Regions from separate parts of the Homo sapiens genome. Here all the other regions are linked to region 3. Evidence: fine-mapped expression QTL. A gene starts in region 3. Each other region holds a variant in brackets. All regions are shown on one strand. Distances are from middle to middle. Region 1 overlaps APLP2 (amyloid beta precursor like protein 2). Region 2 overlaps ST14 (ST14 transmembrane serine protease matriptase). Region 3 holds the start of ST14 (ST14 transmembrane serine protease matriptase).

Region 1 (10,238 bases), 42 kb after region 3:
ACATCATGAGTAATTTCCTTGTCTGACATGGTGCCGTCGCTGCCGGGTTCAGTAGGATTCTCCTCATTGTAGTCATCTCCTTTGAAGGTGTCATAGTAGTAATCTCGGTCCTCCACCACTTCCTCCCCTTCTTCCTCATCCTCATCATCCTCATCCACAGCTGCTTCTGTGAAGTCTTCCAGATCTGCTTCAGTAGGAAATTCACTGAAGGCCAAAATAGAAAAAAAGGAAGGTTAATAGCTCCTATGTGCAAAGCACAACAATGGGTCCCTTCTCTATTCTGAAACACAAAAACAGAGGCAGGAAATAAGCTCAACGCACATTTCACCGTGCCACTAAGCCCTGGGGCCCAGCTACATCAGCAAACGGGAAGTATTTGTGAACATTTGAATCTAATCATGATACAACAATAAGACAAATCCAAATTCAGGGATATTATGTTAAACAAATGACACGGACTCTTAAAAAATATCATAGTAACCTGCAGAAAATAACAGCTCAGAATGATGTAAACACAAAAATCACAGGTACTCCTGTGATTGGCAATGGCTAGAATGAAATGCAAGCTTAATCAACTCTAGCAGAACAAAGGAATGCCCAGTTTATCCAGAAGTGAGGGACTAGCAGCCAACAGCCGTCTTTACAGAAGGGCTAACAAAAAGGCAAAACGACTTCACAGTTCAAAGTAGAAGAGTTACCTTTTATAAACATCATAGTCTTCCTCTTCATCTTCCTCTTCCTCTTCCTCTTCATCTTCCTCTTCCTCTTCTTTTGACACAGATCCAATAATCTTTGTCTGAGGGCAGCACACATATTCAGTGCCATGGAACTGGTCTACCCCACATGGGAGCAGCATGCCGTAGCTATATAAGGTCATTCCCTGAGTCAGACATGCCTAAAAGAAACCCACAGGCCACATCAGAACATACTCCAGAGTAAACGTGGTCAAATACACTCCGATCTCTACCCTCCAAAATAAACCCTTATCAAATCACTTAGCAATGCTTTCTCTTATGAACACATACATTTTCTGTCAAAAAAAAATTGTAATAATATTATTGTAAGATTTATAAATTTTAATTTACAATGGGGAAACATGATCTGGTCCAAAAATACTGAAATCCCAAATGTGGAAAAAAGTCAGGAAGAGAGCATTTTTTTCTAATAATGACTAAAGCCAGATAAGGTGGTCAATGTTAATAGATACTCACCACTGGTGCAAGCACTACTTCAGTATTTGACCAAAGGAAGATTACTGACCAAAGAGCAGAGCCAGCCTAATTACAGAAGACAAGAAAGGGTACTTCTTGCCACCAGAAAAGTGAGATGGCATGCAGTCCTGCCTGTGCATATGTCCAGACCTATATTTTCTATCACTGGCGATTTCCATGCCGGCCTTAGGGTTAGGATGGTTTCCTGGGAGCCTCACCAGCAGCATACAGTATTCTCGCTCAGCCACCTCCTTAACATCCTCAACTTCAGGAGCTGACTGTCAACACTGAGCTCTCCTACACAAATACCTACTTCTCTCCCAAATATTTCTAACTTATAAGACAGAAGTAATTGTAAACCTTAAGGAGATAATGGGGGAAACATAACTAACTTAAAAGCATGGTGAGATTTGGAGAAAAGTGCTACTTCCCTCCTAACAGATACAACAGCAGCTGACTTTCCCCCCGAGTTCTCTTACCTCTTTGACTACCGTGTGCCAGTGCTGGTGATTCTCACACACCTCCATCCGCTCTTTGTGGAAAAACTGGCACTTTTCTGGAACTAGCAGGACATCACTTACAAATTCACCCACTGGAAAAGAGAATCTTTGTCAGAGCGGATCTGACCATGATTTCAAGGTGAAAATGCCCCTCACTGAAGTTTATGATGATAGTCTACACAGCCAGGAGCAGTCTCATGTATACGAGCAGATGCACATCTCGTACCTTCAAAGGCTGACTGGATGGTACAGTTCTAGCCAAGCAGCCACAAGAACTCACCAATCTGTCAGAGCCATGATGCCAGGGACCTTTTAAAAGCCCCCTGACTGCAGTCCCACTGCAGGGCTACAGCAACACGTGACGGGGAATATAATAGGATCACCTCCATGCCCGCCTCAGACACACACAGCTACTCTCCCCACATGGCTCTGCCTTCCTTATTCCTGCCCACACCTCTGTAATCAAATGCCCAAGAAACTAAAACCAGGTGTTCTACTCAAGTACAGATGAATCTTTAGACAAAACATGATGTAATAATTGAATCCAGTAAGAATAATCAATGATTAATTACAAAGGGGCAAAGGTGTCTTTACGGTGGGAAGCCTTGGCAAACTACCTCAGCCAGATAACCAATTTAACACCACTGATAACGAGCAAACTGGTGTGTGTGATGTCCTAAAAATAATATATCACCTACACAGTATTTCTGCCAAAATATATTATCATTTGAATCTAATCATGCTAAAACACTAAGACAAATCCAAACTCAGGGACATTACATTAAACAAATGGCATGGACTCTTAAAAAATATCATTGTCATGAAAGTTTTTGTTTCTAAAGAAAGACTAGGGAACTATCCTAGATGAAATGTAGTATGTGATCCTTTTAAAAAGGAAGCTATAAAAAACACTAGTTGGACACTTAGGAAAATTTCCAAACATGACAACTGTATTGTCATTATATATAGAAGAATGTCCCTGGCTCTTAGGAGAAACCAGCTGAAATACTTAGAAATGAACTGTCGTGATATCCCAACTTACTTTCAAATGGTTTAGCAACACAAAAATATACATATAAGATGCAGAGAGAGAAAAACATCAGGTAAAACTGGAGAATCTAGGTAAAGGGTACAGAGATATTCACTATTACATTTTCTAAAACTTGTCCCAAAAAGTCGGGAGAAAGATACACATAGCTGTTTATTTACAGGGAAAAGATGGTATGTGATTTGTTTCCAAATAATCAGGGTTGTGAGGGAGTGGGCCTATAGAAGGTGGAAGAGTGGCTCATGAACTGATGGTGGTTACAAAGCTGGGCAACCAGTACGTGAGGGTGAACGGTATCATCGTCTCTTGTTTGGCCATGTTTGTAATTTGCCACAATAAAAAGTTAGAAATATACAACACATCACTGGATGATCACCCCAAGACTCTGATCAGTAGTGTAAGGTAAGGCTCAGTAATCTACACTGGGCATACGTCTGCCATGTGCTCCACACAGTGTAGAGGGAGAGGAAGAGAGGGCGAGAAGGGTGCTTAGCCCAGGAAGAGATGCAGGAAGCAGTGGCAGGAAGATGCAGCTGGCAGACTAACCTCTGAGGTTAAGGGGGGAAAACCCTGAAAATATCATGAGAAAGTAATGTGGTCTAAGAAAGGGCTTAGGGCCCAGCTAGTGGGAAGTCTACACAGACCCACCCAGCCTCGCCATCATGGATGAGTCTCTCAGGATCCTCTGCCTTGGGCCTCGGGCGCAAGCACTGAAGTCAGTCTTTCTACCGCCCCAGTGGTAAGAGAAAGGGAGTTGCTGATGTGTAAGTAGGGGAAGATGGGCTCCTGACATGACAAGCTGTAGCAGTGTAACAGTCCCCCCACATGAAAACTGCATTACAAATGGCAGTCAGGTTTCTCAGCACTGCTAGCACAGGGACTTTGGGATCACACAGCTCAATGTGACACTGAAGCAGGATTGCGAAAGTGAGCCTGACATGCTGCTTACCCTTGAGGACCCCAAAGGCTCTAGGGGAGGCAGTACCTGCAAACAGGCTTTAGCAATCAACGAGACTTAAAAGCATTGCTTAAAAATAGCAAAAATACCAACAGTAAGCTAGAATCTGCCTCTACGAGAATGAACAACCCTGATACTCAATCTAAGTAGAAATTACTTCAATTCTGACATCCAACCACCAACTCACATGGTTTAATGTGATTATTCTGAATTAACTAGGCTGTTTTTGTTCATTTATGACAAAAAGCAACAAAAGTGGATGCTAAAGGAAAAGTATATGCAGGGTTGAATGCTAGGGTTCAATCTCAGCACTGTCATTTACTAGCAGAGTAACCTTAGCCAAGTTACTTAACCTTTCTGTCCCTCGGTTTCTTTATCTTGTGGGGACTAAATGACATAATCTATACAACAAGAAAAGCTTAGAACAGAAACTATTGTTCCACATGTGGGTTTGTTGTTTAAAATAAAAACAGAAACTGACACCTGGTAGGCACTATTGATGTTAATGTTAGTGAAGTCTTGAGGAACTAGTTTTATACGAACTATTCAACCATACTCATAAAGCAATGTATATTTAAGCAACAGTTAATGCACTTTAATTTGTAAAACCTCACTTTTAAATGTGCAACTGCAACATCAAAAAAATTTAAAGCAGCAATTTCACTACTAATCTATATTCTATAGAAACACAACAACTATTTTTTTTTTTTTTTTTGAGATGGAGTCTCGCTCTGCTGCCCAGGCTGGAGTGCAGTGGCGCAATCTCAGCTCACTACAAACTCTGCCTCCCGGGTTCAAGTGATTCTCCTGCCTCAGCCTCCCAAGTAGCTGGGACTACAGGCACGTGCCACCACGCCCGTCTAATTTTTTTGTATTTTTAGTAGAGAGACGGGTTTTCACCATGTTAGCCAG[G/A]ATGGTCTCGATCTACTGACCTTGTGATCCACCCCGGCCTCGGCCTCCCCAAGTGTTGGGATTACAGGCGTGAGCCACTGCGCCTGGTCAGAAATACAACCTTTAACTCAATCTATACAACACCTTGGATAAACTAAAAAATGATGTAAAGTAAAAGCAAGCTGTAAAAGGTCAGGTACAGTATGATGCCATTAATGTAAATTTTAAAACACAAAAACATTGTTTATAGATGCATGTAAATGTTGCAAAAGAACTGAGACCAGCCTGGCCAGCATGGTGACACCCCACCTCTACTAAAAATACAAAAATTAGCCAGGCATGGTGGCATGCACCTGTAATTCCAGCTACTCAGGAGGCTGAGGTTGCAGTGAGCCGAGATCATGCCACTGCACTCCAGCCTGGGCAAGAGACTCCGTCTCAGAAAAAAAAAAAGATGGAGATGAAGCAAACATGACAGAACACTGAAGAACTGAAATCAGGAGGGTGAGCATATGAGCAACCATCACATTATGTCTCATCTCTTCAGGATGCTTGGTGTAATATTTCAGAATTAAAGTTTAAAATCAAAACCTTTTCGGAAATGCCAAAAATTTAATAAAATAATTAATTCCATGCTAAACCATAAAATTAAATGCCACTAATCTTCAGCTATTCCATGACTGAATCAATCTGTTCGATCTCTAAAAATCAAAAAAGAACACCACTGAATTTGAAAACAAACTAAATTCTAAAATTTAACTTTTTTTTTTAAGATGGAGTCTCACACCATCACCCAGGCTGGAGTACAGTGGCACAATCTTGGCTCACTGCATCCTCTGCCTCCCAGGTTCAAGCAATTCTTCTGCTTCAGCCTCCTGAGTAACTGACATTACAGGCGTTCGCCACCACACCCAGCTAATTTTTACTATTTTTAGTAGAGACGGGGTTTCACCGTGTTGGTCAGGCTGGTCTTGAACTCCTGATCTCAAATGATCCTCCCATCCCAGCCTCCCAAAGTGCTGTGATTACAGGCATAAGCCACCAGGCCTGGCCTAAAAATATATATATATATCTTTTAACAGTACTCTTTGATTCAACAATTCCAGTTCTAAAAAGATACCCTAAGGATGTCTGGACGCAGGGGCTCATGCCTGTAATCCCAGCACTTTATGAGGCTGAGGCAGGTGGATCACTTGAGGTTAGGAGTTCAAGACCAGCCTGGCCAACATGGGGAAACCCCATCTCTACTAGAAATAGTAAAAATGAGCCAGGCGTGGTGGCGAATGCCTGTAATCTCAGCTGCAGGGTGGAAAGGGGGACACGCAGGACCAAGGCCGCAGTCAGCCAAGATCGCGCCACTGCACTCCAGCCTGGGTGACGGCGACCCTGTCTTAAAAAGAAAAAGAAAAAAAGAAAAAGATACACACCCTAAGGAAATAACTAGGCAAGTGAATTAAAATATTCATTAGTGTTATTAATATCAAAAAACTAGAACAAACCTAAATGTCCATCGAGAGGGAATTAATTAAATGATGATACATATATACAACAGAATAGTATGGGGTTACAAGAAATATGGCTTATGTGTATATTTAACATGGACATTTTTCCATGGTGGTTTAATAATTTTTAAAATCATTGAACAAACAAACAAAAGGAAACCCACTGCGTATCTCTAACCCCTTCTTCAGGCTAGTTACTTAAGGCCAACTTTATCTTTTTTTTTTCTCCCAACCTTATCTTTTATTCAAAGATGTATGTATCCCTAAAAGTAGCACATGATAATAAAAGCTCAATAAATGCCAAATAAAAATAAACAGAACTTTAAACAGAGGAGCATACGTTGTATCATCACAGTTAGGGAAAAAACATTTAAAAGTATATACATTTCCATGTGTATCCAAAGAAAAAAATGTTCATCTATACCCCAAAATGTTAATCACAGTTAACTTAGTACAGAAACTGAAAATAATTGTTTTTGTCCCCTTCCCCCAATGCAAACTTCTTTTATTGAAAAATAAACCCCTTTTTAAAAAGTAGACTGAAAGAGGAAACACATTTCAATCCCAGCATCCGCTCTATCATTTCATTGCTACTCTCTGCCTTTGCTACAATTTTTCATCAGAAGCTCCTAGGGAAAAAAATTTACCTAGGCAGATCAGTATTACTCTGTTTTACAGAACATTGAAAATGGTTTGCTCTCACTTTAGTAATTTATATTCAAGCTGGTAACATCCTCAATTTTATCAGCGGAGTATAATATAATTGCCACAATTTCCTAAGTCACTGGACAAACATAAAGCTCTACTGTTTTTGCTGATCAATGAATATGGCAATATAGCAAAACCTAACCTATACAATATTCATTTAAGCTGCAGTTAGGATTTATCGCCAATTTCTAATCATCCCTGTGATTCAGCTTTTCTTTCCTACTACTTCTCTCCAGCAGTGCTATGGCAGCCATCCAGGTTTTAGAGCTTTTTCAGAGTTGCTGAAATTCCTTTCAGAATAAATAACAAAGGTTGTTTACCTACTTGAGGAAGCCTCCAACACCAACACCCATGCATATAAGTAAATCTACTACATACCCTGACATGACTATTACACACTATATGCCTGTATCAAAATATCTCGTGTACTCCATAAATACAGACACCTACTATATACCCACAAAAATTAAAAATTAAAAAAATAATAATAAATATACTACAAAAGTACACTCCAGGTGCAAACAGGAAAACCATGTAATTTAGGGAGCTGGTAAAAGCTGTACCCAGGTGGGAGAAAACAGCCTTATGTAATGAGGTCTGGTGGTCACCCCAGGTATGTTTCAGGGAAAACAGGGTTCAGAGAAGTGAAGGATCCACGCTACCTCTCGAGAGTGGAACATTCACCTTGCACAGGGGTCCACACCAGGAACAGGGTGAACTGTCAGTGGCTGTCATGAACTCAAAGGCTAGAAGACTTGCAAAAGGACACCTGCAATGGAAAAGTGAGCTATGCCAACAGACCAAGGTACAAATGCAGAAGACAGCACCTCAAAGCTGCCGAGACCAGTTTTGTTTTCAAAGTAGATATTAAATCAGAACTTTAGTAGTTTTCATATCGCAATAACACTACCTGTCCAAATCTCTGTCCAAAAATAACCAAAAACAAAAAACAAATCACCTAAGGCCCAGATCTGGGTTTCAAAATAGCATTCCCCACTAAAAGAAACCATGGTGTCTCAGAGAAAACAGACTCCAGGAGTGGAGTAGGGAAAATACAGAATGGACTTGGAGAATCTTTTGTATCAGAAAGTAAAGTTCTCAAAGAATGATAGGGACATGTTATAAGGACACAGGAACCAGCATAACGGGGCCCCCACTGGCCAAATGCAGACAATGTGTACATAGTAAGACAAATGAATGTAGATACCATCTTAGCCAGGTGATGAAACAAACTGGTATCGCACTACTCCTGCTATGATGCAGTGAGAACCCTTCTGTGATACTCCCCTCAAAAATGAATAAATCAAAAGGATCACAGAAAAACACAAATTGCAAGGCATTCTATAAAGGAACTGAGCTTTGTGCAGTGGCAGTATCGTAGCCAGTGAGGTTTATCGGAGGCGTGATCACTGCTAATTGAAAACTTTTCTATAAAGGAACTGGTCTGTAGTTAAAAAAAAAAAAATCAATGTCACAAAGGACAAGGAAATATGCAACATGTAATCTTAGATTAGATCCTGGATGTTATTAGAACAACAGGTGAAACCTGAGTAGGGTCTGTAGATGAGATATTGGATCAACTAGATATTGTCTACAAAATCTTGATTTTTGATGATTATACCACGGTTACGTAGGAGAATTTCCTTGCTTTTTAAAAATACACACTGTAGTATTAAGGCATAAGGATACCATGTTTGCCTTATTGCCAAATGATTCAAAAAACAACAAACCTCGAGTATGTGTGTGAGGGGTACTGGGAAGGGAGAATAAGATTTTTTACCACATTGATCAAATGTTAACAGTTGGAAAATCTGAAATCTGGGTGAAGGGTACACAGAGGAACTCTGTGCCATTTTTGTAACCATTCTGTAAATTTGAAATTATTTTTAAACTATTATTTTTTAATTTAAAAAAGCAATAGCAACTCTAAAAGACTATCATCAAAAGGCTTTCTAAGGAGTCTATGGGGGGAAAAGGTGGTGGCCATTATTAACTGAATGATGTCAGTTCTGCCTGGGTGCTCGAAGTGGAGGTGACAGCGGAAGGGGCAGGGAGACATCAAAATCTAACTGATAAGGGAGAACTGCAATATGTCTTTCCTACTCCCTCCCTTAAACTCCAGTCATGTCACCCCTTATTCGTTTAGGCTCAGGCAACTGTGCTTATGTAAAAATATCAATGGATAGCTCTACCGACTGGTTACTAAGTTGTCCAAATGGATGCTGGGGTAAACATGAATAACCGTCTGAAGTAACACCAAAGATTGTATAATGCTTTATTCAGTGACCACAATGCAAAGAAGGTACCAAATGGATTATGGTTAAACTGTCTTTTATGCATTTCATTAACGACAATACTATTGCTTGGTTCTGTAACATGCTAACAAATTTAAACTCTATCATTTGGGAAATAAAGCAATAAAATAAAATTTCTGTTGTGTACCAACTATAGTAGTATTTTTGTGTTGTAATTATCGTAAACAGTATATCCGATATTCTAGGCACTACCATGGTGCTGAGGTTGACAAAAAAGACTAAAACAGGGTCGCTGCTGGCAAGGTGTTCACAGCATAGTTGGAGAAAGGTCTATGAACAATCATGGTACAGTGTGATAAGTGCGATGGCAACAGCAAGGAGTATTACAGAAACCTGGATGAATGGATAGAAAATAAGACCAGGAAAGGCTCCCTTTAAAGGAGGCAACTCCTGAGGTAAGCCTTGCAGGAAGAACTTCCCAAGCAAAGTCAGCAGAGGAAAGCCATTCCAAATGCTGAGAGCTGGATGGTGCACGACCACCCTGGGGTGGTCGATGCTGATAAAACCTAAAGCATGACATCACAGAGAACAGGGGAGAGTTGAGCAAGGGCCAGATCATGGAGTTTTGAAGCCACGCTAAGGAGTTTCAACATTCTTTTTTAAGATTTTGTGCATGAGAGACATGATTTGGTCTTCATTTTCAATCTGCAGGCAACAGATTGGACAGCCAGCACTGAGAAACAGCATGGAGGCTGCTCTCGGCCCAGACAAGAACTGACCACAGGCTGAGCTAGGGCAGTGGGAATCTGATGCAGGAAGAGGACACAAGCCAGCGATAACCACATTTTCGACTCACAGCACCCTGAGTGTCTTAGGAACTTTTTCACAGGATTCCTAGGCTAAAAAAAGTACCGAAAAGTTAAGTAGTTAGACCCAACAACTTAATAAGTACTGTGTCCTGTCACCTTAGACCCAACAACTTAATAAGTACTGTGTCCTGTCACCTTAGTGCCCAGTGGGCCCTGCACATCTCCCCCAACTGCAATCAGACTGAACACCATCACCCTCATTTCTTTTTCAGCGATTTTCAAAAGATACTTGCTTTTTATCACAGGAATAACTAAAAACAGCTTCACAGAGATATGAAGTCATCAAAATAAATGAA
Region 2 (10,238 bases), 37 kb before region 3:
ATCTGTGCCTCAGGCCTCCCTCCTGCTGTGGGCCCATCTCTCCTCCCTGCAAAGGGCAGCTGAGGGCTTGGGTCACCTGCTCCTGGAGCTGCCTACCATGGAAAAGCGTGCAGCCAGCAGAAAGCGCATCCCCTTCTTCCGAGGTTGGATTCTCCTGGAAGGCCCATGCCCCTGTGCCTGCCTCTTCAGGGCAAGCCAGGCCCTAACACTCCTTCCTTCAGCCAACAGCCAGACGCCCAGAGAGGCCAGGAGCTAAGACACAAATAGCGCAGCCCGGCATTGTGCCCCTGTTCCTGGGATGCCCATGTGACCCTTCCAGGCCTCTCATCTGTCTGTGTGTCTGAGGCCATGACATGCTGAGCACCTACTATGTGCCAGGCACAGCGCAAAGTGTCTCAAGTACAGCATTGTATTTAATTCTCACAACTCTAAGGGTGGGAGCTGATACTGTCACTATCATTGGTGAAGAACCCAAGGCCTAGGAAGTTTGAATAACCTGCCCAGGGCCACCGGCAAGCCAGAGCTGGAGCATGAATCCAAAGCTCACGTTGGCCAATCCGAGGAGTTGCACAGTGCAGACTCACCGGAGACCACACCTGTGCTCAAGTCTGGCTCTGCCACTTAACAGCTGTGCCACCCCAAGCAAACGTCCCTACTTCTCTGAACCTTACTTTCTGTAGTGAGGATACAATCAAGCTGCCTAACTTGCTAGGGGGTTTTAGGAGAGGCACAGAGACAGCACTTGGCTGCAAGTGGGCACCGAATACAGTGAGTTTTTATTATTACTGTTATTGAGCCCCGTCCTGGGATATCTGCTCATTTGGTTTGGATGCTTGTCCCCTCCAAATCTCATGTTGAAATGGGATCCCCAGTGTTGGAGGTGGGGCGTGGTAGGAGGTGTTTTGGTCACGGTTCCCTCATGAATGTTTTGGTGCCCTTCCCATGGTGATGGGTGAGTTCTGAGTTCACACGAGGCTGGCTGCTTAAGAGTCTAGGACCTCCTCCTGCTCTCTCTTGCTCCTGTTCTCGCCATGTGATGTGCCTTCTCCCCCTTCACCTTCTGCCATGGATGGAAGCTCCCTGAGGCCCTCACCAGAAGCAGAGGCTGGCACCACGCTTCCTATACAGCCTGCAGAACCATGGGCCAAATAAACTCTTTTCTTTATAAATGACCCAGTCTCAGGTATTTCTTTAGAGCAACTCAAGAATGGACTAACACATGTGGCCACCCCTCCAGTGCCCTGCCTCGGTGCCAACCTATCCTGGCATTACTCCCAGATGCAAAGGGCCAGCAAGGAGGCTCCCTGCTGCCCACCCAGAGACCCACCTGAATCCTCTGTCATCGATGTAGCAGTGTGCGGCAGAGACCAGCCAGTTGGGAGAGATGAGGGAAGCACCGCAGATGTGGCCCTGGCCCAGAGCATGCAGGCTTACCTGCCAGGGCCACTCGCCCTCATCCGCATCCGTGCCCCCAACAACACGAGCCTGTCTCGTGAATGACCGCAGCCCACAGTCTGCAGAGGGAGCAGAGAACCAGAGGACAGCAAGTCAAGGTGGGGACATCAAACCACAAGGGGACATGCAGTGTGTGCCAGGAGACCCTGTGTGGGGAAGCCAGCTTTTGGCGTGCACAGCACTGCTGGCGTGGCCAGGGCGTGAGGGACCCCCAAAACTATCTTTGAGCTTCACAGACTCCCTTCCACCATGCCCCTCCTTCTCCCCGCTCCCAAATTCAAACCCTCATCTTCCCACCTCCCCCTCCCTCACAAATGCAGCGAGGGCCTCCGGAGGCTGGCTGGTCAGCTTCACTTTGATTTGGGTGTCATCTGCCTGACTTGACATCATTTGGGACATCACAGGGGAGGGGGCAGCATGGAGCAGGGAGAAGCGCCTTTGAATGCTGAAGGCCACAGCTCTGAGAGGGACGAATGAACCGCTGATGTGAGGTCACAGAACGCTGGAGCTGTGCTCAAATCTAACCTGTGGCCAGCCAACGCTTCTGAAACACAGAGGCTGCAGATTAAAGTATGGGCAGGCAGGGGTGACACCCTGCCTTGGGCTTGGGTGAGCTGGGCCGCTCTTCTCCAGGCTACTGCTCCACAGCTGTGTCTACACAGCAGGGGCCAGCAACGCACTGCAGCCACGACCCCGCCATGCTACAGAGGCGCTGAGATGCTGGCCGTACGGGCCTTTCTCCAAGACCAGAGCCAGCCCGTGGGGTGGTGCCTTCATGCCAACTGGCAAGGCTATCCTTTCCTCCAGGAGACACACCCTCTCACCCAAGCACAGAGCTGCTAAGTGAGGTGCTGGCGGGATTGCACCTCCAGGTGCACCCTCTGGTGGGCACTTCACACAGTGAACAACCTGCACAACCGTACTCGGATGCCCTGCTCACCGCAGTCCTTCTCATCTGAGCCGTCGCTACAGTCCTCCTTCCCGTCACACTCAGGGTTGCCCTTGCTCAAGCAGAGCCCATTGAGGCAGCGGTAGGTGTGTTTGGTACAAGTGACGACGTTCACTGTTCAAGGAGGAGGACAAGGGAGGGGCTCAATTCCTCTGCAGCATCCGACCAGAAGCCAGAAACCACCAATGGCGCCTCATGGCCCCTGCACATTACCCCCTCACCCAGGCCTGCCCCACCCACGCCCACTGGCCTCCCTGCCCTGCTACAGGTTCTCCACCTTCTGGAAAATTCTCCCCCAACCAGAGCCCTTTCTCATCACACTTAACACACAGGTGGTTTGTGTTCATTAAACTCGGGGCGTCCTGCATGTGCGTGTGCTCAGGGCAGCCTCCTCCAGGGGCGAGGCCCCCAACAGGAAGATGGGTGGGGCGGGCCTCACCCTTGGGGCAGGAGGCCTCGTCGGACCCGTCCCCACAGTCGTCCTTCCCATTGCACTGCTGGCTTTTCGAGAGGCACTTCCCATTGGAACACCTGAAGGTCTGGGCCGGACAACCTGGAGAGGCACCAGGACTCAGCCACCAGGAGCCACCGTCAGTCGCCCCGCCCACCTGCCCGCCCAGGCAGCCCCTCCCCAGCACTCACTGCACCCCTGCTCGTCGCTGTTGTCTCCGCAGTCGTTCACACTGTCGCAGACCCAGAAGAGGGGCTTGCAGAACTTGTTCTTGCACGTGAACTGGTGGCCGGCGTCGCAACCTGGAGTGGGGTAAGGGGAGGTCGGCCGTGAGGCCCTCATCACTCACTGCTTCCCCAGGATGCCCAGGCGATCAGAGCTACCTGGGGACCGCTTTCTGATCTACAGAGAGGCCCAAGGGGCCCTGCTCCACCAGCTACCAAGCTGACCTCAGCACTTCCGAGATACCCCACCACCTGCCCCACAGGCCAAGATCTCCATATGGCAGGGTGGGGAGTGGGGCCAGAGGTCTCTACACAGGGCCGAGAGCAAAAACTCCCACCACCTCCGGCCTTTCTGCCTCGGCAGTCAGCCAGCAGGGCCATGGGACGCGGGCAGGGTGGGGAAGGAGGGTGGGGAGACCGGGGCTCCCAGCCTGACTCACTGCAGTTGAGCTCATCGCTGTGGTCGGTGCAGTCGGCCCAGCCATCACAGCGCAGCTCCTTCCGGATACACCGCCCCGTGCGGCACGTGAACTGCCCCGGGCATGCTGCGGGCACAGGCAGGCCTGAGGCCCCCAGCACCCACCCACCTCCCTCCGCTGGCTCCCGGCTCCCTCCCTCGGGCCAACCTCCCAGCCACAAACACACAGGAGCAGGGCAGGTGCTGTGGCCCAGGGCAGGGGTTACCCAGGCCCACCAAGCTGTGACAAAGGGGTTCCTGCACCCGCAGCTAGTGTGGGAAGAGGGCTGGCCACAGACCCCAACCTGGGCTGGCAGGGTCCCTCCCCACCACTGAGGATCGAAGCCCAGGAAGCCCCAGGTGCCCTGCAGAGAGGCCAGCTGGTCGCAGGCCCTGCCCTGCCCTGCCCTGTGTGCTGGGCTGCCTGGTGCCCCTGAGGGCCAGGCCCCGCCTGTGACGCTCAGCTGGTCCCCGATGCATGTGATGTGTCCTATCCAAATGTAGTGCGGCATCGCGCACTTCCTTCACCCTAAACATTTTCCATATTTCAATGTTTCTGAAATCCGGAGGCATCTGACCACTTTGCAGATGACAAAGCTGTAAGGAGACCATTGTCACCGCCTCGGCACAGGGACACTTCGGTCACAGGTAAGTGTTTAGATCAAAGGCGTTGGTTCATCCAAGTGTACTTTTGGTGGTGAGCCAGGCCCTTGAATTTTACCTTAAAGTTGGATTCCTAAGCATAGTTAAATGTCTTCCCAAGGTTATTCTATGACGCAGGGTTGAAATAAAAACACATTGCATATGTGGAAAAACCACTGCTCATACAGCCAATGGCACTTCCTCATGTGTCTCAGAATTACACTGTGAATCCTAACGGTGCTAACAGGCCACAGAGGCAAGCACAGATGATCAAAGTCACGGTGAAGGTGGGCCTGAGGGACAGATGGCCGGGGAAGCTCAGATGAGGGGCGTCTCCAGCCGCAGGTACCTCATGCTGGGACTGCAACCCAGAAGGACACAGTGTGTGCCAGCGCTCACAGCCAGCCTGCTTTCATTAATGCATCAAAGGTAGCGTGTTTTCCTCCCAAAGCTACGGGAGGGGTGAGATGCTCTTACATTCTCCAGCATTTTAGAATCAGCAAAGCACGATGCTAACGAGATGCAGGGTAGACAGAACATGCGGTGCAGGCCCCCGCCAGCCCTCCTCCCAACAATGTTCACTCACGGTCACTGGAGTCGTAGGAGAGGTATTCAGCTAAGAAGCCGGTGTCGGTGTAGGACTGATCTGAGTGGAAGCGAACTGTGATCTTGTTGCTGTTGCTGGTGACGACGAACTGGGACCTCTCTCCGCAGTATCTGGAGGGGGGGCGGGGCACAAGGTGAGGAGGGACAGCTGGGAGCCGGGGGGCTGGGGGTCTGGTGGGACCCCTCCCCCTGCAGCATGGGCCCGGCAGCCCCCATACCCCCGGGGACTCACTTCTCCCCGTTGATCTCCACGTAGTCCTTGGGGCAGGTGCCCGCAGGCACGCCGGGCTCCAGCAGGTAGAAGAATTTGAAGCGCACCTTCACATGCTGGTTGTTGGGCACCTGAGGGAAGAGAGGCTGCTGGGAATGTGCAGTTCCCCTCCCTCCTCCCTGAACCTGAGGACGTCAAAGGGAGGCAGCGGCATGGACCAGGGAGAGATGGTATGCCTTCCATCACCAAGACAGGTTGCAAAGTTCTCCCAGCGTGTTTGTTTGTTTGTTTGTTTGTTTGTTTGTTTTTTGAGATGGAGTCTTGCTCTGTCGCCCAGGCTGGAGTGCAGTGGCAAGATCTCAGCTCACCGCAACCTCCGCCTCCCGGGTTCACGCCATTCTTCTGCCTCATCCTCCTGAGCAGCTGGGATTACAGTCACAAGCCACAACACCCAGATAATTTTTTTTGTATTTTTAGTAGAGATGGGGTTTCACCATGTTGGTCAGGCTGGTCTCAAACTCCTGACCTCAGGTGATCTGCCCGCCTCGGCCTCCCAAAGTGCTGGGATTACAGGCACGAGCCACCACACCCAGCCTCTTTTCTTTTTTTTTTTTTTTGAGACAAAGTCTCACTCTGTCACCCAGACTGGAGTACAGTGGCAAGATCTCAGCTCACCACAACCTCCGACTCCCGGGTTCAAGCTACTTTCCTGCCTCAGTCTCCCGAGCAGCTGGGATTACAGGTGCCCGCCATCACACCCGGCTAATTTTTGTATTTTTAGTAGAGACAGGGTTTCACAATGTTGCCCAGGCTGGTCTCGAACTCCTGACCTCGTGATCCACCTGCCTTGGCCTCCCAAAGTTCTGGGATTACAGGCGTGAGCCACTGCGCCCGGCCCTCCTGGCATTTTTAAAGAAAGGAAAGGGAGGCAGCTCTGGCTGGGATGGCGTGAGCGGCACGGACAGGCGACTCTCTTGTCTCACACACCTTCTTTGATTTCTTC[C/T]TGACGGCGCCTCTGAGACCCAGGCACTATCACCCTCACTTCACCTAGGGGCAAGCTGAGGCCCAGGGAGCTTCAGCAACTGCCCAGGTCGTTCCATCACCTGACAAGGAGCTAAGATAAGAGTCTGGGTCTGCCTGACACTGCAGGAAGACCTGACCCCACCCTGGGCCCTAAGACACATGGTCTCTTTGGGGTTTGTTTATTTGTTTTTGTTGTTTTTTGAGACAGGGTCTCACTGTTGCCCAGGCTGGAGTGCGATGGCACTGTCATAGTTTACTGTAGCCTTAAACTCCTGGGTTTAAGTGATCCTCCCACCTCGGCCTCCTGAGTAGCTGGGACTACAGGCATGTATCACCTGCCTGGCTAATTTTTGTAGTGTTTTGTAGAGATGAGGTCTCACTATGTTACACAGGCTGGTCTTGAATTCCTGGCCTCAAGTGATCCTCCTGCCTTGGTCTCCCAAAGTGCTGAGATTACAGGTGTGAGTCACGACATCTGGCTGCCTCTTTGGGGTTGATAAAGGATCTCCTCTTCCTTTTCTTCTGTCTTCCTCATTTGCCATCCACCTCTGTCTCACACACACACATACGCACACACACACACACACACACACATGCACACATATGCAAACACATGCACACACATCCACACACATCTGCACAGGGAGACACACACACGTGCACATACATGCTCACACACACACACGTTCACACGCCCCATAGCTCCTACCTCAATGTTCCATGTGCAGTCAATGTTGGGTGGGTAGTGGCCTGGGTAGTAGGGGCTGTTGAATGTCCCCTGGGCTTTACGTAAGCGGCCTCCACAGCCTGAGAGGGAAGGTGGGAGAAAGCAAGAGGATCAGGAACCTGCCCGGCCGAGCAGGCGGACGAGGGCTCTGCAGCCTGAGGCCTGGAGCTGCCTCCTGGACGCGTGGATGCTGCACAGCAGGTGCACAGCCAGGAAGGCCAGGTGCCGGGTGCCGAAGCTTCAGGAGGGCTCCTGACCCAGGCGGTCGGCCAGATGCCTTTGGCTCAAGCTTCAGCCTCTGCTGCTGACCTAGGCCAGCTCGCCAACCACAGGGTCTAGCCTGTGGCCTCCTAAGCTCAGGTCACCCCCACTAAGGCCTTCCCCTTCTCTGTGGCCCGAGGGCAGTCCCGCCCTGCCCTGCCCTTCCTTACTGCTCATCCTAGGCAGCTGGAAGAAGGTGGCCTCAAAGCCGGGATGCCGCCGCTCAGTGTTGGTTATCAGTGTGATGAGCAGGACGTTCTGGGAGGAGTGGAAGGTCAGGTTGTAGGAGGGAGGGTAGGTGCCACACAACCTGTGGGGGCAGAGGGCGGGCATTAGGAAGAGCAGACAGAACCCAAGCTTCTCACACACCCAAACCAGGCTCTCAGGCAGAGGTGCCTGAGGACCCCACCCCTAACTCTGGTCCCATCCACAGAGGCCAAGAATGGAGTCAAAAAGACCTTCATTCAAGTAAGTCCCTCCCCCACACAATCACTGATGGAAGGCGCTAGTGATAAACAGTTCACCTTTGTCACAATCACTGATGGAAGGCGCTAGTGATAAACAGTTCACCTTTGTCACAATCACTGATGGAAGGCGCTAGTGATAAACAGTTCACCTTTGTCACAATCACTGATGGAAGGCGCTAGTGATAAACAGTTCACCTTTGTCACAATCAAAGAGCAACACCCAGCCGGGCGCAGTGGCTCACGCCTATAAACCCAGCACTTTGGGAGGCCAAGGCGGGTGAATCACCTGAGGTCAGGAGTTCGAGACCGGCCTGGCCAACATGGTGAAATCCCATCTCTACTAAAGATACAAAAATTAGCTGGGCATCACGGTGCACGCCTGTAATCCCAGCTACTCCAGAGGCTGAGGCAGGAGAATCACCGGAACCCGGGAGGCGGAGGTTGCAGTGAGCCGAGATCGCACCACCGCACTCCAGCCTGGGCGACACAGCGAGACTGTCAGAAAAAAAAAAAAAGAGCAACACCCTAGACACAATACATGCCCACAACAGAGGATTTATTAAATAAACTGTGGGCTCAATCAGAACAACAGCAGTAGTAACAATCAACATTTATTAAGAACATGCCAAGGTCGGGCCTATAATCCCAGCCTGTTGGGAGGTCAAGGCAGGAGAATTGCTTGAGGCCAGGAGTTTCAGACCAGCCTGGGTAACGCCTCATCTCCATAATCAAAAAAACTAGCTGGGCATGGTGGCGCTTGCCTGCAGTCCCAGCTACTCCGGGGCAAGGCCAGAGAACTGCTTGAGCCTCAGGAGTTCAAGGTTACAGTGAGCTATGATTGCGCCACTGCACTCCAGCCTGGGTGACAAGGAGACTCAAAAAAAAAAACATGCCTGGCATGGTTCTCGGTGCTTTTAAATCTATTAACTCATAATCTTCCTAACAGCTCTATGAAGTAGATACTATTACCCCTATCTCAGAGGTGAGGAAACTGAGACACAGAGATGTTCAGTAACTTGCCCAACATCTCATGGTTAATAAGTGGCAGGCTTAGAATTTAAACTCAGGCATTCAAGCTCCAGAGTCCACACTGCTCACAACCATGTCATCCTGATTGTGTCCCCTCCTTCTAAACAATGCAACCTTATAAAAACCCTGAGAGAGAGGGTGACTGATTTGGAAAGACCATCATAATATACTTCATTTGTTAAAGCAGGTAATGAGACTGAATGCACGGGATAATCCTATTTCTTAACACACACACAGCAAAAAAGGCTGGGAAAATAGACATCAAAAATTTGGCCGGGTGCTGTGGCTCACGCCTGTAATCCCAGTACTTTGGGAGGCCAAGGCAGGCAGATTGCCTGAGGTCAGGAGTTCGAGACCAGCCTGACCAACATGGTAAAACCCCATCTCTACTAAAAATACAAAAAAAATTAGCTGAGTGTTGTGGCGCATGCCTGTAATCCCAGCTGCTCGAGAGGATGAAGCAGGAGAATCGCATGAACCCAGGAGGCGGAGGTTGCGGTGAGCCGAGATCTTGCCACTGCACTCCAGCCTGGGCGACAGAGCGAGATTCCATCTCAAAGAAAAAGAATTAACAGTGGTTATTTCTAGACAGTAAGATGACGAGTGACTTTAGTCTTCCTTTTGCTTGCCGATTTCCTTCTCCCACTGGGAACATGTACTTCTTTGTTGTACAATTAATAAATTAGAGAGATGGAAAAGAAGTCCTGGTTACGAAGCTGTGGCGGCAGATGGTTCTAGGTTGTTCTTGGCCTGAATTTTAGCCCATTATTAATCAGGAAACGTCCGCCGAGCTCATTTCCCTAGACAGCCACGGAAGGCTCTGGCCCAGCGAGTGCAGGAGAGGCGGCTCACCCACCACGCACAGCACCTCTGCGAGGTACGCCCCACCCTGACGTGGGGTATCCCACAGGTGCATTAACCACGCCTTTCCGTTTTCTGTAATGCAGGTGCTTTGACATCTGAGGCCCTGCTGACTGTGGAAGGCTGGCCAATGCTTAGAGATAGGAAAGGACTCACCTGCAAGCAAACCTTCCCTATGCAAACCCACCTATGGGGGCCCAGCCCCACCTCCTCCGAAAGGATCTCACACTCAGGGCCACTATTCTTTGCCCTAACCACCCCAGGCCCAAGTATCAGAGAACTAGGGACAGCTCCTATGCCCCGGAGCCTACTGAAATTATTCAAACAAGCCAGTTCTAAACCTCTCACCCTGATTTGTCTTGCCTTTTCTGTGTAAACCATATAAAGGCTCTTTTTTTTTTTTTTTTTTTTTGAGACAGAGTCTCGCTCTGTTGCCCAGGCTGGAGTGTAGTGGTACGATCTCGGCTCACTGCAACCTCTGCCTCCCAGGTTCAAGTGATTCTCCCGCCTTGGCCTCCCGAGTAGCTGGGATTACAGGCGCCCGCCACCACACCCAGCTGATTTTTGTATTTTTAGTAGAGACAGGGTTTCACCAGGTTGGCTTGACTGGTCTCAAACTCCTGACCGCAAGTGATCCAGCCGCCTTGGCCTCCCAAAGTGCTGGGCTTACAGGCGTGAGCCACCATGCCCGGCCCATAAAAGGCTCTTGCTTACATTTTCCCCTCATTCCTGTTACCCCTTGACCAACCTGGTGTTTCCTCATGTGGCCTGAGGCAGGTTCTTTCTCTGTTGCCCAGGCTGGAGTGCAGTGGTGCAATCACCGCTCACTGCAGCCTCGACCTCCTGGGCTGGAGATCCTCCTGCATCAGCCTCCT
Region 3 (10,238 bases):
GTGGGGGCTCACACTTGTAGTCCCAGCACTTTTGGAGGCTGAGGTGGGCAGATCACTTGAGCCCAGGAGTTCAAGACCAGCTTGGGCAACATAGCAAGACCCTGCCTCTACAAAAAATACAAAAATTAGTCAGGCGTGCTGGTGCCCACCTGTAGTCCCAGCTACTGAGAAAGCTGAGGCAGGAGGATTGCTTGAGCCGGGAGGTCAAAGTGGCAGTGAGCCATGATTGCACCATTGCACTCCAGCCTGGGTGACAGAGGGAGACCCTGTCTAAAAAAAAAAAAAAACAGTAATAACAACACTTGTCTCTGAGAAGGGTAATACTTGGTCTCAAAGACTAGTAAGACCACATCTTACTTCCCTTCAGCCATGCCTGACCCAGGACTAGGTACACAGTTAGTTCAATGAAGCTTGGCAGGAAAAAAGACAAGCAGCCAGCCATGCTCAATAAATGCTAACGATTATTAGTGTTCATCATTATTAGTATTCTAGACACTCCAGTAATCATTGCACAATATCAGAAGCAACATCATCTTCAGGACCTGGGCTCCCAGGGGACTCTGTCACGTTTCCCTTCCTCTTCCAAAGACAACTTCTCTTTTAAAAGAGACATGAGCCACCAGCCTTGGCAGAACCACAGACCAGAGAAGGAGCAGACATCAGGGAACTTGAGGGCCACAGTGTTCCGAGGGACAGAAGCCACTGGCCACAGCAGTAGGCAGTCTGGTAGTCTGGTTCCCAGGGAGCAGAGTGAGGGTCAGGTAGGGGGAGGGAGCTGTGACTCGTTCTCCTTCCGCAGCCGGTGACAACGTGGCAACAGGCCAGCAAGTCGGCTCGAGCAGGTCCACCCTCTGACCATTTCCACTGCTAGCAGGCGAAGGCAGCCATCAAACTAGGGGCATCTTCTCCTCTTCCTCAGTTTTCTCAACTCCTAAACGAGGAATTTCCAGGTGTTCTCAGGACCAAGGCAGAGGGAAGGCTCCAGAAAGCCCCTGGAGAAGGCAGATTTCCGGTCCACTCCAGCAGCTGAAGCCCCACCTACAGGACAATCCTAGCTTCCTGCTGCTTTCTGCCTTCCCAACCCTCTTCCTCACCCACTGCACACACCTGCCCAGCACATGCTCTAGAGAACAAAAAAGGCAGTTCTCTAAAGTTTTATGTGGGCACAGTGGCTCACGCCTGTAATCCCAACTACTTAGAAGTCTGAGACAAGGAGGATCGATCACCTGGGCCCAAGAGTTTGAGTCCAGCCTGGGCAACATAGCAAGACCCCCATGTCTAAAAAACAAAACAAAATAAAAGTTTAATTTTCTATGGTGGGAGGGGCAGGGGATGAGAAGGAGAAAGGGATATGCAGCTGGCACACATTTTCTTTTCATAGAAAGATATTTCTCCTAGAAGCTGGGTAAAGCAGGGGAATGAAAATCAGAAGGTCTTAGGAAGAGGTCTCTGTTGCTGGCGAGCAGTTCCTTGAATCCTGGGGGCACTTCCCTGTGTTTGGCAGGGCAGGATGGCTCCTCTGTGAGGTCAGGGCCCCACTGACAGCCTGGGTTCTCAGCCTCTCGACAGGCGACCTACTGATACTATACGATCTTCTTGCTTGTCTCAAGTCCCTTTCAACTCAAAAACTCAAGCTGCATCATTTGAACACCACACTGCAACTTACAAAGGGCTTTCATGTAAAGTACCCCTCTTAATCCTTTCAACAAACCTGGAACATATATGTCATCACCATTTTATAGCCACAGAAACCAAGGCTTAGAGATATTGAGTAACATCTCTGAGATCACGTGGCTAGACAAGGCGGCCCCGGGTCTTGGCTGCATGTTACCTCCTGCCACCACATCACAGATGCCTGCAGCCCTAATTTGCTGACCTGGCCCTTCCAGCCTGGGTTAGAGAGATGCCATGTGCTCACCCAGTGCATATCGAGAAGCTAGTACTCATGAGTCAGAATTCAGTTCCCTGTACCCCACACTACCTTGGGTGGTCCCAAGGACAGGGGCTGTGAGTCTAGGGTCTTCCTCACTGCTATTTCCCAGCACCTGGCACAGGCTCAGTCAGTGGGTTACCTAGCAGATATTGTTATGTGAATGAATGCCTGAATGGTTGACAAATTAACAAGCAGGTGACCCTCTGAATAGCCAGAGGTGTACACCCTGGCCCCTAGACATCTGATTTTGGCCACACAACATCCGATTTTTCCAAACTTGGTCTCTGGATGCCTAAGGGATGCTGAGTCTTACCTAGGGCAATTGTGATCGGAAAAGGAACCAGTGGATGTCAAGGCAGCTTCATATTCACCATCAAATACTCAACAGGAATCAAGACCCTCAGGGAGGCAGGCTCCCTGGCTCTCATTAATGGCCATAAGAAGTGGCATCTGTTTCCCTGCTTGCTTGCAGGCAGGGCTCACACCATCCCCAGATGCAGTAACGTGCATCAGGACTCTGAAGGCCACGCAGAACACTTGATGGGAACAGCAGGGGTGGGGCAGGGGCCACACCACCAGCCTTGGGAAGGGGACAGCCAGATACAAATACCACCAAACAAGGGTGCACGGATGGATGCAACTGGGGACAAGGAACCCAGAAACAACAGCACCCTGTGGGCCAGGCTCTGCTGACCCAGATAATAAACCCAGGGGCAGCAGCCACACCTCCCGGCCGGGGATGGACATCCTAGCTGCAAACACACACTACAGGGTGATCCCAGGGACTGGGATTTCTGGTGAGGCCAGGGATGGGAGGAATCTGCAAGACATGGAAATGAGCTTTGGCCAATTTCCTCTGGACACTCCGCCTCACAGCTAACTTTGGCATTCGTCTCTTAGTTTCGCTCTCAAGACTGGATGTTCTTTAAAGGAAACAACCACATCTTACTGGTCTCTGAGAGCCTTCCCTTCACCCATGGGACTAGGTACTGAGTTAGTTCAATAAAGCTCGGCAGGAGAAAAGACAAAGAGCAAGCCAAGAGAATGAAAATGGCAGAGGGGGAAGGAACAGCCCAAGGGCGCAGAGAGCAAATGAGCTTCGCAGAGGAGGAGGAAATGAGCAGGGATGGGGGAAACTAAAGCCAGGGCTTGCAGGTGACAAGACAAGTCCGCTGAATGTGGGATCCTGGGGGTGAGTGGAAGGTGAGCCCCAGCCTGGCTGCTTGTCAGGTGGTGAGATGGCTCAGAGAGGAGGCTGGACCACACGACCAGGAAGACCCTGCTTTCCCCGTGTGGGCAGGAGAGTCCTAGAAAGGGAAGTCAGGGAGAACAAACTTGGGGTGGGGGCACCGGACTGCCCTGAAATAACAAATTCCAAACAGCAGGTTCTCTGCTGAAGAGGCAGGGAGTCTAGAACCCCAAGTAGGCAATTAGCAAGGACACAAACATAGCAATTACAGCAAGGAAGAGAAGGTGAATCTGCCTCACAGCAGGGCACAGGCACAGCCAGGGGAAGGGCCCAAGCCTTCAGGTCCACTGGAAGCTTTCCTCCTTGCTGAGGGTGAAAAGTGGAGAAAATAGCAGAGCCCAGCCCCAGGTCCTGTCTGTGGTGCAGGCAGCCTCCAAAGCCCCAGCGTCTGATTTTCTGCAAGCTCCCTAGGTCGGGATGCTGCTTGGACAAAAGGAATTGATCTGAGACAGCACCAAAATCAGGCCTGACTTAGGGAGCAACGGCGGAGACTATGGAGCCCAGGGGCACCCGGAAGGAGGGGAGAAAGTGAGGGTTGGCAGGGCAGGGAGGCCATCATTTGCAGAGGAGCAAAACTCTCTGCCACACAGCCCCTGCCTCTCAGCGCCGCCCTGACCTGGTATGCCCTGGCCTTCCAGGAAACCTGGGGGTCTGCCTTGGACAGAGAGGGTAGAGACCTGGCTGCTGGTCCCGCCCGGGCACTACCACCTAGGTGGGTCCGTCAATGAAGTGACTAGCGACCCATCCCCAACTCCATACAGGAACATGTAATCTTTTTGAGATCTTTCAATAGGTCTTTCATTGTTCTTTCTGCCAAAGAAGAGCTTCCTGTTTCGGTACTTCGCAAAAGGCTCAAGACATGTGTGTTCCCACATCCCTTCCCATACAGCCGCCTTCCCAAAGGGCTCCATCCCCTCTCGAGAAGCCCAGGCAAGCCCAACTCTGGAGTTCTTAGCTCCAGCCCGTATGGCAGCCAAAGCCCTGGCCTCCCAGTTGTCCTCTGCGAGGTCCCAAAGCGCCTTTTGACGGGGAAGGAGAGAGACGAAAGAAACTTTCTGCAGAGGCCAAGGATGGCTGAGACTCCAAACCCTCCTGAAATTTCACTTCCTCCCAAATAACCCCACTCCAAGCCCCTGGTTTCTTCCAGATGTTCACTAACAGCGCGAGAGTCATGGAGGGGCCGAGACGGAGCCCCTTTTTTCAACTCAGGGAAAGAAAGGACCGAGGGCGCAGGAAGGCCCAGGGGCTTCCCGCCTCCCCCTGGCGGGGCGCAGCCGGTCCGGTACCAAAGGTCCGGCCAGCCCCGCCCGCCCGCGGCCCGGCACCCGCTGAACAGGAAATTCCACCTGTGCGCCCAGAGCTCGGCCACCGACGGACACGCCAGGGGAGCCGGCCGAGCCCAGCGCCGCGCTGCAGGGTCGGGCGGGCAGGAGCTTCCCAGCGCCCCGGGTCCCCGGCCCGCGCTCACCTCGTGCCGGGAGTTGTACTTGAGTCCCGCGCCGAAGTCCTTCGGGCCCCCTCCGCCCTTGCGGGCCCGATCGCTCCCCATGGTCCCCGAGGCCGCTCGCGGGTCTCACAGGCGTCGTCCCTGCCGGCGGCCGGCTCCCATGGCCCGCAGGGCGCGGGGCGCGGGGCGCAGGCGGCGGGATTCCGGGCAGGCCCAGCGCGCCCGACCGGCGGCGGTGCCCTCGCCCTGGCGCGCTCTCTCTCCCTCTTCCTCTTTCTCCGGCTGCAGCTCCGCTCTCACACTCCGGCCCGGCCCACGCAGGTAGTTTCAGGGTGTGGCCTCGGCCCGCCCAGCCCGCCGCGCTCGCCTGCGCACCTGCCCGGCTCACCTGCCCGCCCCCGCCGGCCCTGGGGGAGGCTCCTCCCCTCGGCTCTGGGCCTGAAGGTGAGGGGGCCTCACTCGGGTGGTGGTCGCTAAGGCCCTCACCATCACCACGACGGCGTTCACCACCCCTCCGGCCCTCCAGGGGCCCTGCCCCGGGAGGGCAGCCCTTTATCCACCTCCTTGATGCCAACCATCTTTTCCCTCCTCCCTCATGCGCCTCCGGTCTCTCCCCTTCACCTTGCTCACTTTGCTACAGGACTAAATCGCATTTATGAACCCCCCAAAACCAAACAGAAACCAGAACCGCCCCTGGCCCAGGCTCCCCGTCGGCTACGCAGCCTCCTGTTCTCCAGGCGGGAGGCGCTTGCTGGCCTGCGCCCGGCTACCCTGGGGAGGCCCAGTGACATGAGCTGTGCCACCAGATGCCCTCTGAGCCATCCCAACGCCCCTCGCCCACTTGCAGCATCTGATGCTTCCTCAAATGCCCCCTTTCCCTGGATTCCGGTCCTCCTTTCTAGTCCTAAATGTCATGATTCCCAAAGTTCTCCCTTCAGTTTCATCCCTTTCTTCTCTAAGCTTTTTCTCTTGGCAGCACGTCTCATCTTACGACTTCAGACAGGAAGACCTCCCTCCCAGCACAGACACCACCAAGGAGTGCCAGTTCTGCCTTAGCGGTCGCCTGGGGACGTCTCCATTTATGTTCTACTGTATTCTGTAGCCAATGAACATTACCAAGCACACACTAGGCGCTAAGCACTGTCCTGGGTACAGGGAAACAGGAGTGAACAAAATAAAAATCCCTGCTTTGAGATCAACAAGCCCCATCTTCCTTCCCTGACTTGCCCATTTTCCACTGTTTTCTCTAATTCTAATGGCAGCATTCTCCCAGGCTCAAATCCTGGAATCATCTTTGATTCTCCACCCTGCTTACATCTCATATCCAATTAGTTCCAAATCTGATCAAGACTCTGCTGACAAGCATAGCCCTTCCATTCCTGCGCATTAGAAGACCGCTATTCGAGTCCTCAGAGCCCTTTGCCTGGTTAAGAAAGATCTCCTGCCTCTGGGCTGCCACCCTCTGATCTCTCCTACACAAAGCAGTCAGGTAAATCTGAAACCACAGCTCCTTTATGACTTTCCGTGTCTCCCGGATCAAATCCAACCTCCTTAGCCCAGCTTCACACTCTGCCCTGTCCTCCCTTAACACCGTGCCTCCAAGCATTCCTGTTTGGAGCCCCTCTCTCCAGCCAGGCGTTCTGATCTTGGCAGCTTTCATAAAGCTTTTCATCCCCTGGAAGCTCTTCTCCTTCATACTCCTTCCGCATATTGGGTCGAAGACACCGATGGGGTTTTTTAGTGTTGTTCATTGAATGTTTTTAGCTCTCTGCCTTCTGGGCACAGGCCAGGGTGTTACTCTCTCTTCTCTGAAGTTAGGTATGGCAGTATGGCTAGCGGTAACCAAGAAAATGTCCAATGAGAGGACACACCACTTGTACATAGCAGCATAAGGAGGCACTGCACAATGCCCTGCTCTCTTCTGAGAGGTTTAACTCTGTGACCTGTGACCCTAAGTGGCTACAATGACACACACTGGATATGTAGCATGAATGAGGAGTCAGTCAGCTTTTGGGATGTTAAGCCACCGAGAGCTGAGGGTTGTTTGTTATTGCTGCAAACCTCACGCTTCCTGACTGATATGCTACCTCCTCCCCAGGAGTTTCCTTCCCTCTCAACCAGAACTAGCTCTGTTTGTACCTCTCTCATGGAGCTCACCACCATTTCGTTGCATTTTCTGTCTGTGTCTTAACTGCCTTTGCACCCTCAAAGCCTAGCACAATGACTAACACAATATATTGGGTCAATTTAATTGAAAGAAGAATGAATCTGCTGCCTTCCATCACATAAAGCATTCCAAAGCTAAACAGAAAATATTTCTAAAAGGCTGGCACGTTGGCTTCCAGCACTTTGGGAGGCTGAGGTGGGTGGATCACCTGAGGTCAGGAGTTTGAAATCAGCCTAGCCAACATATAGTGAAACACCATCTCTACTAAAAATACAAAAATTAGCTGGACATGGTGGTGCATGCCTGTGGTCCCAGCTACTTGGGAAGCTGAGGCAGGAGAATTGCTTGAACCTGGGAAGTGGAGGTTGCAGTGAGCCGGGATCATGCCACTACACTCCAGCCTGGAGCGAGACTCCATCTCTCAAAAAAAAAAAAAAAAAAAGAAAAGAAAAAAAAGAAAAAGAAAATATATAAAAATAAATTTTCCTTTGGATTACCAATGGCACAGCATTCTTCAACTAGTGTGAGTGATGGAAAGTAAGCCAAATTCAATGTGACGTAAATGAGATGGTACTCCTGACACACAGACCTTCTGTGCTGCTGCAAACGCAGTGACTCACGTTGTCTCCCCACTTCCTAGGGCCTCATCTTTTATCTCGTAGAGCTGGGCGCTCAGCGTGATTTGGATGCCGTATGAATGCAATGCATTGACTGCTAGTGCAGATGAAGAGAAAGCGATGCAGGACAAGACCCTTCCCCTAGGATGGCTGCATGGGGATACCTTGCTGCATGCACCCTATGTGCACTCCTGGGTTGGAGGAGGCAGTGTAACCATATGTTATTCCATGAATCCCATTTGGTTTAATCCTCAAAAAATTATGAAATGTCAGTGCTTTTGTTCCTAAATGGTAAGTGAAGGAACCCAAGAGCAGACAGCCTCCAGAACAGGACCAGATTCTCACACTCACAAGGAACAAATCCAACTCAAGCCCAGATTTTGGCTTGAGGTCCGTGTCATTTCTCTGCTATAGAAAGAGTGACTCATGACCAAATGACCCAACCTTCACCACCCACTGTGCCTTCTCCACCACCCCCTCACTGGCCCTTCCCCGGCCCCAGCACTGCAAAGCTGTCATCGCTCCTCTCCAGGGAGCCATCCTCTTCCTGGTTCCAGGACTGCCTGCTGGGAAAGTTACATCTGTGTCCCTGGGACCCCCTCAAGGGCATGTCCAACAAGCCCCTATGTCCTTGTGGCCGGGACCACTTAGAAGGTGTGCAAATGTGGACCTGCCCACAGGCTAAAGGACACTGGCTGAAGCTGGTGACAATGTGGGAGACAGTAGGGCCATGTGAGGTAGGCCCAGCCCAAGTGTGAAACAGCCAGTGCTCTGGTACCATCCAAGGCGGGGAGACCAGAGCAGCTTGTGCCAGGCCTGCAGGCGACTCATGCTCCTTCAATAAAGAAGAAAAGTGCAAACAGCAAAGAGGTGTGGTAGAGGTTGAGAATGAACAGAATAAAGTCAAATGAACCGGTTATGGAGCTGGCATCCATAAATGTACCTAAACCTTCTGAAACAACAAGGTTTATATGAATTCGACACCTAGAACCACTTCTGCTTTTGTCTTGGCACAGCCCTCATGCTTCCCTGTCAAACATGCTTCATGGGGAAAATGCACTTTCTAAACGCCAGGTGTTTAGTATCCTTGAGGTAATGCTGCTTTTTCCTGCACGGTCCTTCCCACCCCATCCCCGATGACTTGGCCCCTTCCCCTTAGTGAGATCCAAATTCAGCTAAAGTTTCAAAGTGAATATGATTAACTTTCCCCAGAATTTAATAACTAATCTCTTCCGTCACTTAGGACTTATGGTATAGTGTATTTTGATCTTCCTGATACACATAAGAGCACTGAAAATGCTGTTTGGAGACAGTGAGCGAGGACAGTCTGTGGAGCTGATCAGTGTCCGTCAAGTAAGCTGTCTGCTACTGGGTCTCTTCACCGAGTTTAGAAACAAAAGCATACCATAATTTCTTTTTTTTATTTTATTTTCTTTTCTTTCTTTTTTTTTTTTTTTTTGAGACAGAGTTTTGCTCTTGTCACCCAGGCTAGAGTGTAATGGCACAATCTCGGATCTCGGCTCACTGCAACCTCCACCCAGGTTCAAGTGATTCTCCTGCCTCAGCCTTCCAAGTAGCTGGGATCACAGGTGCGTGCCACCACTCCCAGATAATTTTTGTATTTTTAGTAGAGATGGGGTTTCTCCATGTTGGCCAGGCTGGTCTTGAACTCCTGACCTCAGGTGATCCACCCGCCTTGGCCTCCCAAAGTGCTGGGATTACAGGTATGACCCACCACGCCCGGCCAGCATATCATAATTTCATGAGGATTAAACCAAATGGGTCTGATGTGATAGTTGATGGCTACGCTTCCTCCTGGCTCCTGCACTTCCATGAGCTGGTGCGGCACAGCGGTCCTAGGGGGAAGGGCTTGGCCTCTGCGTGGCTTCCTCTTCATCTGAATTTGCAGCTGATGCATTGCATATGGATAGCATTCAAATGCCAGCACTGAGCACTTCTGTGGGCAAGATGCTCATTCAGCTCTGAGATGAAAGACGACGCTCTAGCAGGCCAGGCTCTGTGGCAGGCACCTGTGGTTCCAGCTGCTCGGGAGGCTGAGGCAGGAAGATCTCTGAGCCCTGGAGTTCGAGGCCTCAGTGAGCTGTGATCACACCTGTGAATAGCCACTGTATTCCAGCCTGGGCAACATAAGTGAGACCCCATCTCTAAACAAAAGATGATGTTCTAGGAATATAGGGGAGAAGATGACCCCTCCTTTTGCAGCAGCAGAGCGGGTTTGTGTGCCACAAACACCCATTTGTTTATGCTACTCTGGATCCAGCTATCTTAGCAAAGGGCTTCCTCATCCATTTAGTCAACCAGTTCTAGAAGACATCACTGACCTCTCCTTTCCTTATCCCACCCACCCACAAACAACAAACACACAAACAAATCACCAATCAGTTGGTTCTACCTTTAAAACATGTTTGGAACCTGTCTAATTCTCCTTTTCCCTCCTGCTGTGTCCCTATTCCACGCCACCATCATCTCTCCTGTGGGCTACACACAGCCCTGCAAGCTCTCCTTCCTCTCTGCTCCACTCTAGGCCTTGTGGTTACAGAGAATGGTTTCCTCTCCAGGCGCAAAACTCCTGAAGGCATGGACCAGTGTCTGTTAGCATCCCCAGCATGCACTCAACCAGTCTTTGTTAAATTATTCAAAGACCACATGAATAAGGAAAAATGCAAGTAAATGTTTTCACAATTTTTTTTTTTTTGAGACGGAGTTTCGCTCTTGTTGCCCAAGCTGGAGTGCAATGGTGCAATCTCAGCTCACTGCAACTTCTGCCTCCCAGGTTCAAGCGATTCTCCTGCCTCAGCTTCCCA

What was found. PIP is the estimated chance that this variant, and not a neighbour inherited with it, causes the effect.
Region 1: its variant is the best candidate, but not a certain one, in a credible set for the expression of ST14 in whole blood (GTEx, PIP 0.90).
Region 2: its variant is the best candidate, but not a certain one, in a credible set for the expression of ST14 in lung (TOPMed, PIP 0.75).

Annotation. Positions count from the first base shown.
Region 1 is chr11:130,112,271-130,122,508 of GRCh38, reverse strand. APLP2 (amyloid beta precursor like protein 2) reads right to left here. Exons shown (of 17, transcript NM_001142276.2): 4 at 1,691-1,803; 5 at 699-895; 6 at 1-204. It also overlaps the pseudogene LOC124902850. Among named protein-coding and RNA genes, the nearest start is that of ST14, 42 kb to the left of the region's middle. RefSeq lists an enhancer at 3,540-3,619. The variant G/A (reference allele first, on the strand shown) is at 4,630.
Region 2 is chr11:130,191,227-130,201,464 of GRCh38, reverse strand. It overlaps ST14 (ST14 transmembrane serine protease matriptase), which reads right to left. Exons shown (of 19, transcript NM_021978.4): 8 at 7,177-7,316; 9 at 6,728-6,825; 10 at 5,017-5,126; 11 at 4,765-4,895; 12 at 3,520-3,624; 13 at 3,047-3,157; 14 at 2,844-2,957; 15 at 2,396-2,518; 16 at 1,328-1,514. Among named protein-coding and RNA genes, the nearest start is that of ST14, 37 kb to the right of the region's middle. RefSeq lists an enhancer at 2,858-3,359. The variant C/T (reference allele first, on the strand shown) is at 5,999.
Region 3 is chr11:130,154,473-130,164,710 of GRCh38, reverse strand. It overlaps ST14 (ST14 transmembrane serine protease matriptase), which reads right to left and starts at 4,929. Exons shown (of 19, transcript NM_021978.4): 1 at 4,651-4,929. The coding sequence starts at 4,731. RefSeq lists an enhancer at 3,194-3,693 and silencers at 4,781-4,850, 4,931-5,050.